Homo sapiens: one gene and its partner. The protein of the gene in region 2 interacts with the protein of the main gene of each other region in a pairwise test. Each region holds a gene or a part of one and is shown on either strand. Other genes may lie near its edges.

Region 1 (7,436 bases), on a different chromosome or scaffold from region 2:
CTGCCTCAGCCTCCCAAGTAGCTGGGATTACAGGCATGCACCACCATGCCCAACTAATTTTTTGCATTTTTAGTAGAGTCAGGGTTTCTCCATGTTGGTCAGGTGATCTCAAACTCCCGACCTCAGGTGATCCACCCGCCTCAGCTTCCCAAAGTGCTGGGATTACAGGCATGAGCCACCACACCCGGCTGCACCTGGCTAATTTTTGTAGTTTTAGTAGAGATGGGGTTTCATCATGTTGGTCAGGCTGGCCTTTCCTGACTTCAAGTGATCCACCTACCTTGGCCTCCCAAAGTGCTAGGATTACAGGTGTGAGCCACCAAGCCCAGCCTAATTTTTAAATTTTTTTGGTAGAGACAGCGTTTTGCTCTGTTGCCCAAGCTGGCCTCAAATTCCTGAGCTCAAGCAGTCCTCCCCACTGGACCTCCCAAAGTGCTGGGATTATAGGTGTGAGCCACCATGCCCAGGCTCATCTTTTCATGAAAGTCACAATTCACACATTTTGCTTGGTAGGAAATATTTTTATATTAATTCTGAAAAGCTACAAAAGTGCATTTTTACAAACTTAGGGGAAGTTGAGGTTCCTGGGGTGAGTCCTCGGTTCTCCCAGCTTTGCTCTGTAATGCAGGTCTCTGCAAGGGTCCCTGTTTGTCCCCTAAGGGGAGAGCGCAGGTTGGCCTGTGCCTCCACCCCACTCCCGATTCAAGCTCACAGCCCACCTTTTCCCTGCCCCATCTCAGTGCAACAGGTGATCGAGAACCACATCCTCAAGCTCTTCCAGAGCAACCTGGTGCCCGCTGACCCTGAGTGAAGGCCGCCTGCCGGGGACTCAGACACTCAGGGAACAAAATGGTCAGCCAGAGCTGGGGAAACCCAGAACTGACTTCAAAGGCAGCTTCTGGACAGGTGGTGGGAGGGGACCCTTCCCAAGAGGAACCAATAAACCTTCTGTGCAGAATGAGGGACTTTGCTGTGCTTCCCGGAGGGCTTCCTGGAGGAGACAGCCCCTAGAGGTCTCACACCTTCTCCCCAAGCACCCGCAGGTGGTAGATGACCACACGGCCAAAAAAGTCAGTGGCATCCTCAAACGTCACCTTCAGCCGGTCCACTTCAGCAGCTGGTATGGGGAAAGTGTGAGCGTGGGCAGTCAAGGGAAACTGGTGATTTCTGGTTTCCCACCCGCAGGCCCCCACCCCTTCCAGACCCAGCTCACACTCCACCGATGTGGGCAACCTGGGGAAGCTGCAGGTCCCTCTAAGCCTCTCACACAGAACAGGTGGTCATCAGCACCATTTTACAGAAAAAGTGGAGTCCTAGAGGTCACGTGTTCAAGATCACACATCAGGGTTCCCATTCGGGTTTGGGTGAGTCCAAAGCTTCCAGAGGCACAGACCACCCACCCCAGAAGCAGGGGCAGGATATCTGAAGCGAGTTGTTGTCCTCAGGGTAGAAATCTACAATCTTGTGGAGAGCCTGAGTGCCCTGTGAACCTTCAGCAGAGAAAGGCAATGAGTGTCTGGGGTGACCCCTGGAACCCCTGCCACCCAGGGCCTTCTAGTACCTTCCAGGCAGCCCCGGCGACTGGAGAAGCCACCCTGAAACTGGATCTGCAGCTGGGAGACACGGATGAGCTGGGGAAACTCCAGCGTCACCCACTGGGAGGGGCCCTGGAAGCAGACAGGGAAACTGAGGCGCAAGCTCACTGCAGGCACAGAGCCCTGCTATGCCTGTCTCATTCACATAGTTCTTGGAATGGAGGGGAAGAAGGAAATTCGGCACATGTTCCTTTCCTGGCCACCCATGAGGGCCCCCTGACGTTCTCAAGGCATGAGATCTGAATCTGAATCACCCTAGAGATGGAGGGTCGAGGGAGGCGCCTCACCTGGTCTGAGTTCCAACATGTCTCCTCATCCTGGTCGAAAAGATGTTTTTTTCCAAACTGCCGAGTGTTGCGATTCAGCACTGAACTCACCCTGGAGGCACCAGGATCAAGGCGAAGAGAGGGGCTGAGACCAGCTCTCAGCTCCGCGGAGGGCCTGACCCCCAGATCTGTCCACTGAGGGCTCGACCCCAGGCTTAGGGCCTCGCCACTGCCTGTCCCCACAGACTCTTACCTGCTCACTGTCTCTGGACAAACCAAAGAGTGGGTCATGTCGGTTCCACAAGACCTCGCAGGGCTTAGGATTGGGCACAGCCTTGGTTCGAATCCCGGCGCCTCCTCAAGCTACAGGGCGGCGCGATCTTGGCTACGCCTTGGCCTGAACGTCCTCACCTGTAACTTGGGACGAGAACCGCCACTCCCTCGCCCACCCCAGTCCTAAATGTCGCCTCGATCAATCCCCTGCCGGAAAATTTGGGAGAGAGGATCAGGGAAACCGCCAATGCCCGGAGGCCAGGCCTTTCACAGGAAACAGATTTCCCGCGGGTTTCGGGGGCGGTGGCTTTTTGTGCGAGGCTGTTTCTCTGCGAATAGCTCTTGGAGCCAAATCTTGGGACCCGGAACCGCGTGGGCTTGGCGCATGCGTGTTGTAATTCAGGCGCCGACCGCGGACGCTCCAGAGGTGGGGTTTGGTTCGACCCCGCCCCTTCATGCTCGCTTCTTAAAGGGCCCGGGTTCGATGATTGAATTTACCTTGGTTCCCTTGAAGCTGTAGGGAAAAGGCTGGCTGCGCGCACGGGGCGCTGTCCCTCGGCGCCCGAAGGTGTAGAGCACTGATTTTGACTGATTTTGGAATCCGAAAGACTTCCTTTTTTTTTTTTTTTTTTTGAGGCGGAGTCTCACTGTCGCCCAGGCTGGAGTGCAGTGGCACGATCTCCGCTCACTGCAAGCTCCGCCCCCTGGGTTCACGCCGTTCTCCTGCCTCAGCCTCCCAAGTAGCTGGGAATACAGGCGCCCGCCACCACGCCCGGCTAATTTTTCGTATATTTAGTAGAGACGGGGTTTCACCGTGTTAGCCAGAATGGTCTTGATCTCCTGACCTCGTGATCCAGCCGCCGGGGCTTCCAAAGTGCTGGGATTACAGGCTTGAGCCACCGCGCCCGGCCTTTTTTTTTTTTTTTTTTTGAAGTGGGGTCTCACTGTCACCCAGGCTGGAGTACAATGGTGGGATCGCGGCTCTCTGCGACCTCTGCCTCCCAGGCTCCAGCAATCCTCCTACCCAGCTTCCCGAATAGTTGGAACTAGTAGGCGCGCGCCACCACGGCAGGCTATTTTGTTTGTTTGTTTGTTTGTTTGTTTTTTGGTAGAGATGAGGTTTCGCCATGTTGCCCAGATTGGTCTCGAACTCCTGGGCTCAAGTGATCCGCCCACCTCAGCCTCCCAAAGTGCTGGGATTACAGGCGTAAGCCACCGCGCCCGGCCAGAGAGACTTCCTATGACAATGTCTTTCTTCCTACTCTAACCTACTCTACCCTAACGGCTACCCTAACCTACTCTAACCTACTCTACCCTAACCACTAAATGCAGCCTGGGAATCCCCGAACTTCACTGCCTCCCGGAGGCCAAAGGCAGAGTTGTGGAAAAGGCCACGATGTTGGGAGTATCTGAAGTCCTCATCAACCCTTTTTGTTCTTGTTGGGACAGAGGAGCCCTGGCCTCCAAGTTTGTCTTTCCCAGAAAATGCTGCTGGGACGTCAAGGAAGGCTTCTTGGAGGAGGGAGCATGCGAGGTCGGGTGTTTTTTGTTGTTTCTGTTTTGTTTTGTTTCGAGACGGAGCCTCACTTTGTTGCCCAGGCTGGAGTGCAGTGGTGTGATCTCAGCTCACTGCAACCTCCGCCTCCCAGGTTCAAGTGATTCCCCTGCCTCAGCCTCCTGAGTAGCTGTGACTACAGGTGCGCACCACTATGCCTGGCTAATTTTTGTATTTTTAGTAGAGATGGGGTTTCGCTATCTTGGCCAGGCTGGTCTCGAACTCCTAACCTCGTGATCTGCCCGCCTTGGCCTCCCAAAGTGCTGGGATTACAGGTGTGAGCCACCGCACCCAGGCTGTGAGGTGGGTTTTGAAGCATGAACAGGAGTTTGCCAAACAAAGCCTCAGATACCAAGCTGAAGATTTGGTTCACTGATTCACTAGACACCTCCTGCAAGCTCTACTGTCACACTGTCATGTCCAGCCTTCTGCTGGATGATGCTGGGGACAGCAAGAGGCCTCAGCTCCAGGCCTGTCCCAGAGGAGCCCCTGATCTGGGCAAGACAGAGGTAGACATAGACACTCCTAGCCCCAAGGGAGAGATGGGGCCGGAGGAGCAGGGGCTCTACCTGGAGGAAGGGCTTCCTGGGAAAGGGGATGTTAGAACTGCACCTTAATAGGGGGTCAGGCGCCAGGAATTCACAAGGGTGAGAAAATCTGGAGTGGGGAGGGTGTCCCAGGCAGGGAGCTTAGCATAAGCCAAGGCCTAGTTGGGTGAAAGACCATGAATTTGAATAAAATATGTGGAGCCACATCCTGCTGGGCCCGGAGCAGTCATGGAAGGTGTTGGAGAAAGGGCAGGACACCATCCGTTCTGCATGAATGGAGGGTTCCAAGACAGAGCAGCCACTGGCAAGAGGCTGTTGTTCCTGGCTTTAGCTGAATGGTCTGGCAGCCAGCCCCTTTCTTCAAGGGCTGGAGGAATGGTCCTTCCGGCATCCTACTAGTGTCTGCTCAAACCCACCCCAGGCAGCAGGGGTGGGGGCTGGCGGGGAAACTGGGTCACCAGCAGAAGGCCTGTCTCTTCAGCCCCTGCCTGCCAGGGCTTTCCGCATTTAGACAGAGTCTGGTGCCATCCAAACCCAACTTCGCTGGTCTCAGGGCTGGGGCTGGAGGTGACAGGAAACTGTGCCCCCAACCTCACCCCCGGAAGGAAGTTAGAAAGAGCAAGGACACTGGAGAGCCCAGATCTGGTTCAAATCCTGGCTGGACCACTCATTGGCTGTGTGACCTTAGAAAAGCACCTTGACCTCTCTGAGCCTCAGTTTCTCATCTGTGAAATGGGGGGAATTCTATTAACGGCACTGTTGGAGGACTCTCTGGGTTCTTCAGGTTGACACATAGTAACAGTAGCTGACTTTCACTGAGAGTCCACCGTGTGTCTGACTTGAAGCCATGTTCTGTCGCCACCCATTGGCTCGTTAAACCTGCTGTGGCTGGTCCCTGTCATTCCCATTTTATAGCTGAGGACACATCAACTTAGCCAAGTCCCCCCAGTGAGGATATGCATGGCTCCAGGGCTCTCCACACCACTCCTGGCTTTGGCATGCGGCCTCCTTGCCCACGGGTATGAGGCCAGCTCCATACCCTCTTCCCGCCTCCTCACCCCACTGGCGCCTGGGCATGAAAGAGCCTCCTGTTTCTCCAGGGAATTAGCAGCTCTGGGCTCCCAGCAGGGCAGCCAAAAGTGGTCCATTCATTCGCTTGAGTGAGGAAAGACTAAGAGCTCCCACCCCCACCCCAGGGAATGGGGCAGGGAGGGCTCTAGAAGGTCCAAAAGCAGCTCCTCTGGTTCACTTGGGGAAACTGAGGCACAGAAAAGCAAAGTCATTTGGCCAAGATCACCAAGGGGAACTGGGATGCAAACCCCAGTCTCACTCTGGAGTTCCCCTAACTGGGCTTGGGTTAGCATTTTTCTGGGGAGAAATTGGAGGTTTAGAGAGAGTCAGGGACTTGCTGGCAGTCACACAGCAAGTTTGGGTCAGTGGGGACTCTCTGCCTTGGTGGTGTCTGGGGAGGCAGCCCCACCCATGCAGAAAACAGGTCCTTCTGTCCATGATTTCATTATCCTGGAACAAGGCAGGGAATGGCCCTCAGATAGCTTCAAGCCTCAGTTTCCCCACTGGGAGATGGATGTAACCTTTTCCCTAAGGTCTTAGCCTGGGGCATCTGCAAGGGAGGGTTTGATGGGATTCCCTGAGCCTGGAGACCCCCATCCGGCAGGTCTGGGTCTGATTTATCTACCGGAGCCCATCAGGACCCCTCTCCGAGGAGACAGATGTTCACACAGTAGCAGCTGGGGTTATGAGTCCTGGTGCAGTGCAAGCCTGGGTCCCACTGGAGGTGACAGTGGGAGTGGGAGGGGTGTCTGGGTGTGAAAGGATTCAGGTGGGTGTGTATGGGAGCACCAGGAGCTGCGTGTGTGTGGCTGTTGTAACAGTGGCTGGGAGGGCTACAGATCTCGGGGTTGGTGGCATTGGTGGTGTTGGTGTGAACATGGTTGTGTGCTCACTACCTGTGGGTGTGTCTGTGACTAGAAACCTGGTTGGGTGTGAGCAATGTGGGGCCAACGTAGGCTCTTTGCTGCTGGCAGGAAGGCGAAGGTGTTGTGGGTGTGAGCAGCAGTGGGTGTGTTTGCATGTGGAGGGACACTGGTGCAGCCCAGCTCATAGCTTTGCCTTCGGTTGTGGAGCAAGTGTGACTTGTGTGTGGCCCAGGCCAGGTATGGTTGTGTGTGGCCTGACCAGGTTGATTGTGTATGTGATTGTGTGTGGCCCATTGTGGCTGTGCATGGCTGGGTGTGGTTGTGCATGGCTGGGTGTGGTTGTGTACGGCTGGGTGTAGTTGTGCATGGCTGGATGTCGTTGTACATGGCTGAGTGTGGTTGTGTATGGCTGGGTGTGGTTGTGCATGGCTGGGTGTGGTTGTACATGGCTGAGTGTGGTTGTGTATGGCTGGGTGTGGTTGTGCACGACCAAGTGTGATTGTGTGTGGCTGAGTGTGATTGTATATGGCCAGGTTTGCCTGTGCATGGTTGGTGAAACCTGTGTGTGGCCCGGTGTGGTTGTGCATGACTGGGTGTGGTTGTGTATGGCTGAGTGTGGTTGTATATGGCTGGGTGTGGTTGTGTATGGCTGAGTGTGGTTTTATATGGCTGGGTGTGGTTGTGTATGGCTGGATGTGGTTGTCATTGGCTGGGTGTGGTTGTGCATGGCTGGGTGTAGTTGTGCATGGCTGGGTGTGGCGTGTATGGCTGGGTGTGGTTGTGCATGGCTGGGTGTGGTTGTGTATGGCTGGGTGTGGTGTGTATGGCTGGGTGTGGTTGTACATGACCAGGTATGATTGTGTATGGCTGGGTGTCATTGTGTATGGTCAGGTTTGGTCATGTGTGGTGGGTGAGACCTGTGTGTGGCCAGGTGAGGTTGCATGTGAGCCACCTGTGCTGTTAGTGTGGCTGGGGTGTGGCTGGGGTGTGACTGTGTGTGTCAGTGGTTGTTGGTGGCATTGTGTGTGACTTACCCATGTGTCACCTTGGGCATGTTCAGAGGCACTTTGGAGGCACTGTCCACCCCTGAGACCCAGCTCTCTTGGAGGGTCCAGCCTCCCTCCCCACCTCTGCTCTGGTCTGCCAGTACCATCCCCCACCCCTCCCCCACTGGCAGCAGCCCCTGGCCCAGGGCCCCAGTGGGGTGGTGGGGACAGAGAAGGCACTCAGGGCTGGGGAGGGGTGCCCAATCCCAGCTCAGG
Region 2 (7,366 bases):
GGGGAGGGGCCTCCCTCAGTTCCCTTCTTCCCCCGCAGCCCCTGTTGTGCAAACAAGGAAGGAGCAGTGAGCAACTCCCGGCAGCCCCGCCCCAGGCGCCTGCAAAGGTGTCGGGGCCGAGCTTGCAGGGGGTGGACGCTGCGCAAGGGGCTGCCCCAGGCCTGGGCCCTGCGCCCCACCTCTGACCCCCGCAGACCCCTCGCGCAGCCCGTGCCCTGCCGCTCTGTGTCCGCTTACATCACGACGGCAGGGGCCGGCGGGGCAGACACACAGGCCTCATTTGCGGATTGGCCACTCCCACCCAGGGCCAGGGCCAGGAGCCCCCACTGGTGCCCCAAGTGGGGCTGGGCGCAAGTCCCCTTTGGGAAAGGAAGGCTGCATGTGCCGCCGCAGGCTTCAATCCTGAGCTGGCACTGCGGGGTCTCAGAGCTTTGAAGACCCCTTCTCCGCAAGGCTGTCACCGCCCTGGGGCCGGGAGGTGGTGGGGGCCGGAGCTGGTCCAGAGCCGCCGTCCCCCACCTCCGAGGCCTCCTGGACCCCGCAAGGCCGCCCCTCCACCCTAAAGCCAGTGCCTGAAGGCCAAGGCTGGAAGGGGAGTCGGGTCAGGAGGCGCCCCCTACCCCACCGCCGCCCAGCGGGCGTCGTGGGGACCCGGGGGGGAAGGTGAAGACCGGGAGGAGGCAGGAAGGCGGGAGGTGCGGGGCGAAGGGGGGAACCCAAAACTCCACCCTCGCCAGGAGAGGCCCCTCCTCGGCGCAATCCCCGCCCGGGCCGGAGGGACGGCTGGAGGGCGCCTGCGGGTTCCGGCTTCCCGGCTCTGCGGGCGGGGGTCGGCGCGGGTGGTCGAGGCTGGGCGGGGCCCACCCGGGGGAGGGGGAGGGAAGGATGCTCCGCCCGGCCCCGCCCCGCCAGCCGCGGGACGTGGGGGACGTGACCGCGCCATGGGAGGAGCCCCCGTATTGCCCGCAGTAGGCGCCCTACTGGACGCTACCGTAATTGCCGGCGCGCGGGTCCACCGGGGTCAGCGGAGCCCGGGAGCCGCGCCAGGCGTCGGGGCCTCGAAGCCACAGGGCGGGGCCGACTCCACTTGCTGCAGAGGTGGGACCAGTGGGCGCGGCTCGGGACTCGGGGGCGTCGACTCGTGAACTGCGGGTCTCGGAGCAGGAGCCCGGCGGTTCGGTTCCGTTGCGTGCGGCTGCCCGGCGTGGCCCATTTCACAGATGGGCCTGACTCGGGCAGGTGACGCTAGGAGGACGCCCTGAGCTCTGTCTGCTCCCGCCCCGCCCCTGCCCCAGGGCCCGGGCACCTCCAATGGCTCTGCGCCACTGCCCGGAAGGCCCCCGCTGGGGCCCAGAGTGTGGCCCACATTTGGCACCTCACTGGAGGGAGCGGCACAGGCCCTTCTGTCCCACGTGGCCAGGTCACCCCAGGACCCACCGCTGAGCCAGCCGAGCCTGGCATAAGGGTCACTGCAGGCCAGTAGGGGGGACCCGTCCGGCCTGACGGCTGGGCTGGGATCCATAGAGCCCTCTGGTAGCTGCCCCTCCAAAGTAAAGTGCCCCGCTCCAGTCAGTGGGGTCTGGCCTGATCGTGCAGGCCACATGGCTTTCTGGGTGGCCTGGATGGCGGGCCCTGCCCAAGGTCACATGGGGTCGTTACCAAGCCTGCCTTGAGACCAGGCCTCCAGGTGCCCACCCCAGACTCTGTCCACACCATGGGGCCCTGGGGGACAGACGCTGCACGTGCCACGGCAGAGCCCCCATGCACTCAAAGCCTCTCTGGGGGCAGACACCCCCCCACGGCCTCCTAGCACCTCCTCAGTTCCTTCCCTCCATGAGGGAGTCGAGCCCAGCCGCCTCCACACCACGCTGGCGGAATAGACCCTCCTTCAGCAGGGTCAGGCCAGCACCCACCTGACTTCCAGGCCTGTGCAGTGAAGCTGGGACCTTGGACTCCCCGGCCCCAACAGACACAAGACCTCCCACCCTTGTGCTCAGCATGGACAAGCCCCTGGGCCTTGGGGTGGGCCAACTGCCATTTCCCGCCCAGCAGGCCTGACTCTGGCCATCACCAGGAGAGGGACCCTTTCAGCCCATGCCTCTGGGACAGAGAGGAGGACAGCCGCCCCTCGGCTCCCCCCATCGTCCCTCACCGACTCCAGCCACCCCTGGAGGCCCCGGCCAGAGCTAAGGGCTTCCCTTCCACTCTGCGGCTCCTGTCTCTTGACTGGCCCAACACCCAGGGAGGCTCCTGACCAACCCACTTTTCGTATAGGGAAACTGAGGCGTGGGTTAGGAAGTGGGAGGCTACCAAAGGCTGCGCCTGGTTTTCCCACGAGCTGGGGGCCAGGGGTGGAGGTAGGGCGAACCCAGGGAGCCCAGCCTGGCTCTGGAGAGGGTCCCCCACTTCCCTGCACGGTCTCGGGCTGTTAGTCATTGCCCAAGGGCGGGTGTGGGTCGGGGAGTGTTCAGGGTGTTGCGAACAGGGGAAAGCGCCACGGCCCGAGCGCAAGTGCTCCCCACTCCCTCGGGGAGGCCACCCATACAGGGAGGGCTGCAGCAGCCCCACCAAATATAGCCCGCGCCCCCCGCCACCGCGGACCGAGCTATTTATACCCGGACCGGGCTTGGCCGCCGGCGCAGCCATCTCCTGGCCCGAGCCCAGCCCCTGAGGGCAGCCCGACGGGTGGGCGCCGGGCCGGACCGGGGGAGACGAGACTGGGCAGCCAGGTATGCGAGGGCGCGGAGGGGCGCGGCTGGCTCTCGGGAGCCCTCGGTGGGGCCCGCTCGGGGTCGAGAAGGCTAGTCCATGCCCCGGGCGCCCCCGGACCTGATGGACAAAGTGGGCGGGGTGGGGGTGAGAGCGCGGACCCCGAGGTCGCCCCCTTGCCCGGCACGGGGGAGCTCCTGGGCCCCGGCCCGCGCGCGAGCATCGCGGCCGCGCCTACCTGCCGCCGCTGGGCCGCCTCAGCCCGCCTCTCGCCGCCTCTCGCCGCCTCTGCCCGCCTCTGCCGGTCCGCTCCGCGCCGGGGGCGACTTTAAGTGCTCGGGTCGCTGGCGCGGCACGTCCCCCGCGCACGTCACCGCCTGGCGCCGCCCCTGCGCGCCCCGCCCGGACCCCGCGCCGCCTCCGGACGGGCTCCCGGGCCGCAGCTCCCCGACGGCGCGTCCCGCAACCCCGCCGGGCCCAGGGACCCCCCCAACCGGAACCGGCCCCGTCGGCGCCCCCGGCCCGGAGCTGGCCCGCCCCCTCTGCTCCTCGGGACTGGGTCTTCCCGGCCTCGCCTCCCCCGGAGTCCAGGCTCGCTTCGCCCCTCCGCCCCGCCGTCCCTCCGTTTCCCCGCCTCGGAGCGCAGCGCGGCAGGTCCCAACGTCCTCCAGGGCAGCGACCCCTCGCCCCCCAACGCCGGGGCCCCTTTGGTGGGGAGGTGCGCGCGGGTCCCGTGGGGTTCCGGCCGCCTGGCTCAGCTCCGGGGCCCACATCCTCCCTCTCTGAGGCCACGTCCGACCTGTCCCCCTTCAGACCTCCGCTTCCTCTCCGGTCCCGGTGCGGACGGCGGCTCTTCCTGGCTAGGGGAGCGGCCCGCGGCCTGCGCTGCCTGGATGTGGGGCACGGCCTCGCCCTCCCTGAACTTCCGTTTCCCCAGGTGGCTCCGCGCCCTGCGGGGCCCTACAAAGCCACCGACTCCAGCCCTGCGCCCCTGCCCCGCCCCTCTCGCGGCCCAGAACCCGACGCGGAGGCCGGGGCGGCTCCCACCTTCGGGGAGGCGAGGGCTGCCCACCCGCTGGACCTCGTGAGGTGCTTCTCCCAGCCTGTTTTCTCTCATTTGCAACATGGAAATAACGGGCCGCTTTGGGTGCTGAGGTTTGAGGTGGCTCCAGGGAGTAAGGCCTTTGTTGGCCTGGACCAAGGAGTCTAGTTGTCAGGGCCACCCTGCCAGGGCCACAGGAATGCTTTAACTGGCCCCTCCCGGACCCGGGGGCTTCGGGGACCGAGGCACTGGTAAGCCCGTGCCTTCACACACAAAGGAGGCAGGGGGTATCAATGGAGGACCCCTCCAGAGGGCAAGGGGAGGCCACCCCTGACAGTGAGGCCGTGTGGGCCTTGGCTCTCCATCTGCAGCCCAGCCTTGCGGGACATCAGGTCCAGTAAGGCCGCCTGTTCTTTCTATGTAATGTTACAAGCCCACCCTCCCGCTGGCATTCACAGAGGCTGGGTCTGGCCCTCACCCCTACCTGGGGCCCAACCACCCCCATCCCCAAACATCAAGATGAGGGCACGTGCCTGTGAGCAGAACACAGGCCTGTGGCAAGTGGTGAGGGGGCCTCCAACTTCACAGATGAAGACTCTACTTAGTTGGCCCGTGCTGCTCCCGCCCAGGGCAGGTGGTGCTCCCGCCCAGGGCAGGTGGTGCTCCCGCCCAGGGCAGGTGGTGCTCCCGCCCAGGGCAGGTGGTGCTCCCGCCCAGGGCAGGTGGTGCTCCCATCTTCCTGCACCAGGCGATTCATCAGTTTCTGAGGAGGGAGAGCAGCAGAGGGGTGCGAGGCACCGTGGACAGCTGCGGGAATGGGTCCCCTATGGGGTATTGCCTGCCGGGGAGGCGAGGGTACCGTGCTCCCCATCCCAGATTGTTGAGTCACCAGGCCTGCCAGCTGGGCTTGGGGCCCCCACTGAAGCCACCGAGACACCTTCCACATCTGCCTACAGCTTGGCCCTGATCCCTGAACCCTGAACCCCCACCGTAGAGCAGCAACAGGGGGAGGGAGACAGAGCCAGAGAGCCTGGGACCTCACTGCCCCCTCCTGCCTCCTGAAGGACAAAGGGGCGCCCCTGCCAGGGCCAGGTTTTCTCCCAGCTGGGAAGACGCCCAGTCATCCCTCCAGGGGTCCCAGGGAGCACCTGTGGTTTGGTTCTGACCCCCAGGCCTGGCCCCCTCTTAGGCATGGCTTCCCCTGGGTGTGGGCCCCAGGACTGTCCACCCAGAGCTGGGGTGGAGCCTCCCTGCCCTCAGAGGGGAGGGGAGCAGGCAGGCCAGTCAGCACTGGCTCCCAGCAGAGAGGTCAAGTCTGTGGGCTTTGACTGGGGGGACTGGAAGACCACAGAGTGGTCACAGTGATGTGATGGCTGCTGGGGGCTGGGGCTGGGGGCCTGCCAGGTTGTTACCCAGAGGAAACAGGCAGCGCAGCTATCAAGCAGGCCACTTGGGACAGCTCACCCGGAGCCTGGACAGAACAGGACGCTGTGGGGTGGGGCCAGAGCCTCCGAGACCCTGGGCCCCTCTCCGAGGATTCTGGCACTCCGGTAGCATGAGGTACCCCTGACCTCCAAGTGCTCAGCTTTTAGAAAGGCCCAGCAGTTGGTGGCGGGGGGCATTCCAGGCCTGGCACCAGGGCCCAGGTGGCCAGGCTCCATCTGACACAGGGCTCCAGGGGCACCTGGGCACGGAATACCACTTTGGTTTCGGGTAAGATGCCTTCTGGGGGTCATGCCCCTCCCTCAACAACCCTGGATGTGTCAGAGACAGCGATGGTGCAGGGGAGAGGCACTTCTGGCCATGGTGCGATCCCCTGGCCCGCTGGGGGTCTGGAGCTGCGGGAAGGGGTGGGAAAGGCCACGTGTGTCCGCATCTCTGCACCCCACTCTGGGTGGTGTTGGGAGCACCCACCCCACACCTGGCTCCAACGCTTGCTCCCCCACAGTGGCCCTGGGTCAGACCCCAGGCCCAGGCCGCCCTTTTCTGCAGGAAAGGAGGTGGGGGTGTGGACAGGTGGCACCATCCCTGGCCAGTGAGCAGCTTCACAGGACGCCCCCCTCTGACCCCACAGCCCCCAGTCTTGACTTCTCCCCCAGACCCAGGTGCCTCCACCTGCCCCTGGCTGCCCCAACTTCCTTTTGTTCCCAGTTCCAGCTACAGGGCCCTCCAGGCCCTGGAATGTCCTCCTAGGGGCCTGGCCCCCAGGTCCTTCCCACCCTGCTCCCTGGCAGGCTTAAGCTCCCTGGGGTGCGCAGTCCCACCTTTTCCAAGAGCAACCTTTGTGGGAGGGGGGCGGGCAGGAAGGGGAGGCTGGGATCTGCTTCCTCCCCATGGGCTGCCCCGAGAGTCCCTACCTCTGTGTCCTGAAATGACTTAGGAAATGCGGAGAGGCTTTTCTCCAAGGGTCACCACAGCCGCTGCCCCAGGGAGGGTGGCAGAACAGGCCCCCGGACCTATCAGGGCCAGATCTCAGGTCCCAGGGAACCTTCCAGGGTCGGGGGAGCCACACAGCCCACATCCTGCGTCCTTGGGAACCCCGCACACCATTTTCCAGATCCCAGCAGGGCCACCCCGTCCTGACCCAGTCTTGGCCGTACCACCCAGCACCAGTTGCCGCCCCATGGACAGGACTGGGGCCAGGACTGGCCGGGTCAGGGGAAGAAAGCCGAGTCACGGGGAAGGACATTCCGGCCGAGCCACAGCCCCGCCTCCCTGGGGTCCTGGGCTGCCCAGCTCCTGACCCTGCCTGCCTTACAGCTCCCTGCCCAGAGGATCTGGTGACACAACTGTCACAGCCTGTCATTCCACACCTGTGGCCACACCGTCCCCAGACTCCAGACCCACGCGGGGCGTGTGGCGGGACGTGCCCAGGCTGGATGGGGGATGCAGCCAGGACGGTGCCAGGGGAGGCTGGTGCCCTCCACCACACAGAGCCTAGACCCAGGACCAGGACCATGGCCCAAATCTGCGCCCTCCCTTCACTCGCCCCAGAGAACCTGTCCAGGCTCACAGAAAAATACATATTATTATTATTTTTTTTTGACAGAGTCTCACTCTGTCACCGGGCTGGAGTGTAGTGGTGCATTCTTGGGTCACCACAACCTCTGCCTCCCAAGTTCAAGCGATTTTCCTGCCTCAGCCTCCTGAGTAGCTGGGGTTACCGGCACCTGCCACTACGCCCAGCTAATGTTTTGTATTTTTAGTAGAGACAGGGTTTCACCATTTTGGCCAGGCTAGTCTTGAACTCCTGACCTTGTGATTCACCTGCCTGGCCTCCCAAAGTCAGAAAAATACATATTAACCTGGCTGCTGGTCCTTCCCAGGGAGTGGCAGCCCAGGTAGGGGGCAGAGGTGAAAAGGGCAGGAGAAGCCGCACCGTGGCCCAGTGGGGCCTGACCCACCACACTGCTGCCTGTGGTGGGTGTTGGTCATGGGGTTTGGGTGTGATGCATGGTGTAGGGTTATGAGAGGGCCGGTTATGTGGGGTTGGGGGTGTACACGGGCGTGAGGGTGTGTCTGTGCACAGGTGTTGGGGTGCGTCTGTGCATGGATGTTGGGATGTGTCTGCACGGGTGTAGGGTTGTGTCTGCACAGGTGTCTGTGCACGGGTGT

Evidence for each region. Proteins that work in one complex are often made in the same cells at the same time.
Region 1: the proteins of SLC16A3 (region 2) and NR2C2AP interact in binary tests that used the Homo sapiens proteins (3 or more experiments, as listed by UniProt).

Annotation. Positions count from the first base shown.
Region 1 is NC_000019.10:19,200,909-19,208,344, forward strand, and holds NR2C2AP (nuclear receptor 2C2-associated protein), read right to left. Parts: upstream 2,507-7,436; 5' UTR 2,153-2,506; coding exon 2,115-2,152; intron 1,974-2,114; coding exon 1,883-1,973; intron 1,668-1,882; coding exon 1,562-1,667; intron 1,491-1,561; coding exon 1,423-1,490; intron 1,134-1,422; coding exon 1,017-1,133; 3' UTR 812-1,016; coding exon of another isoform or gene 741-811; 3' UTR 656-740; coding exon of another isoform or gene 566-655; 3' UTR 501-565; downstream 1-500. Other genes in the region: DNA-binding protein RFXANK, read left to right, coding at 741-811. UniProt on the Homo sapiens protein: May act as a repressor of NR2C2-mediated transactivation by suppressing the binding between NR2C2/TR4 and the TR4-response element in target genes.
Region 2 is NC_000017.11:82,224,688-82,232,053, reverse strand, and holds the start of SLC16A3 (monocarboxylate transporter 4), read right to left. Parts: upstream 3,013-7,366; 5' UTR 2,948-3,012; exon of another isoform or gene 1-2,947. UniProt on the Homo sapiens protein: Proton-dependent transporter of monocarboxylates such as L-lactate and pyruvate. Plays a predominant role in L-lactate efflux from highly glycolytic cells.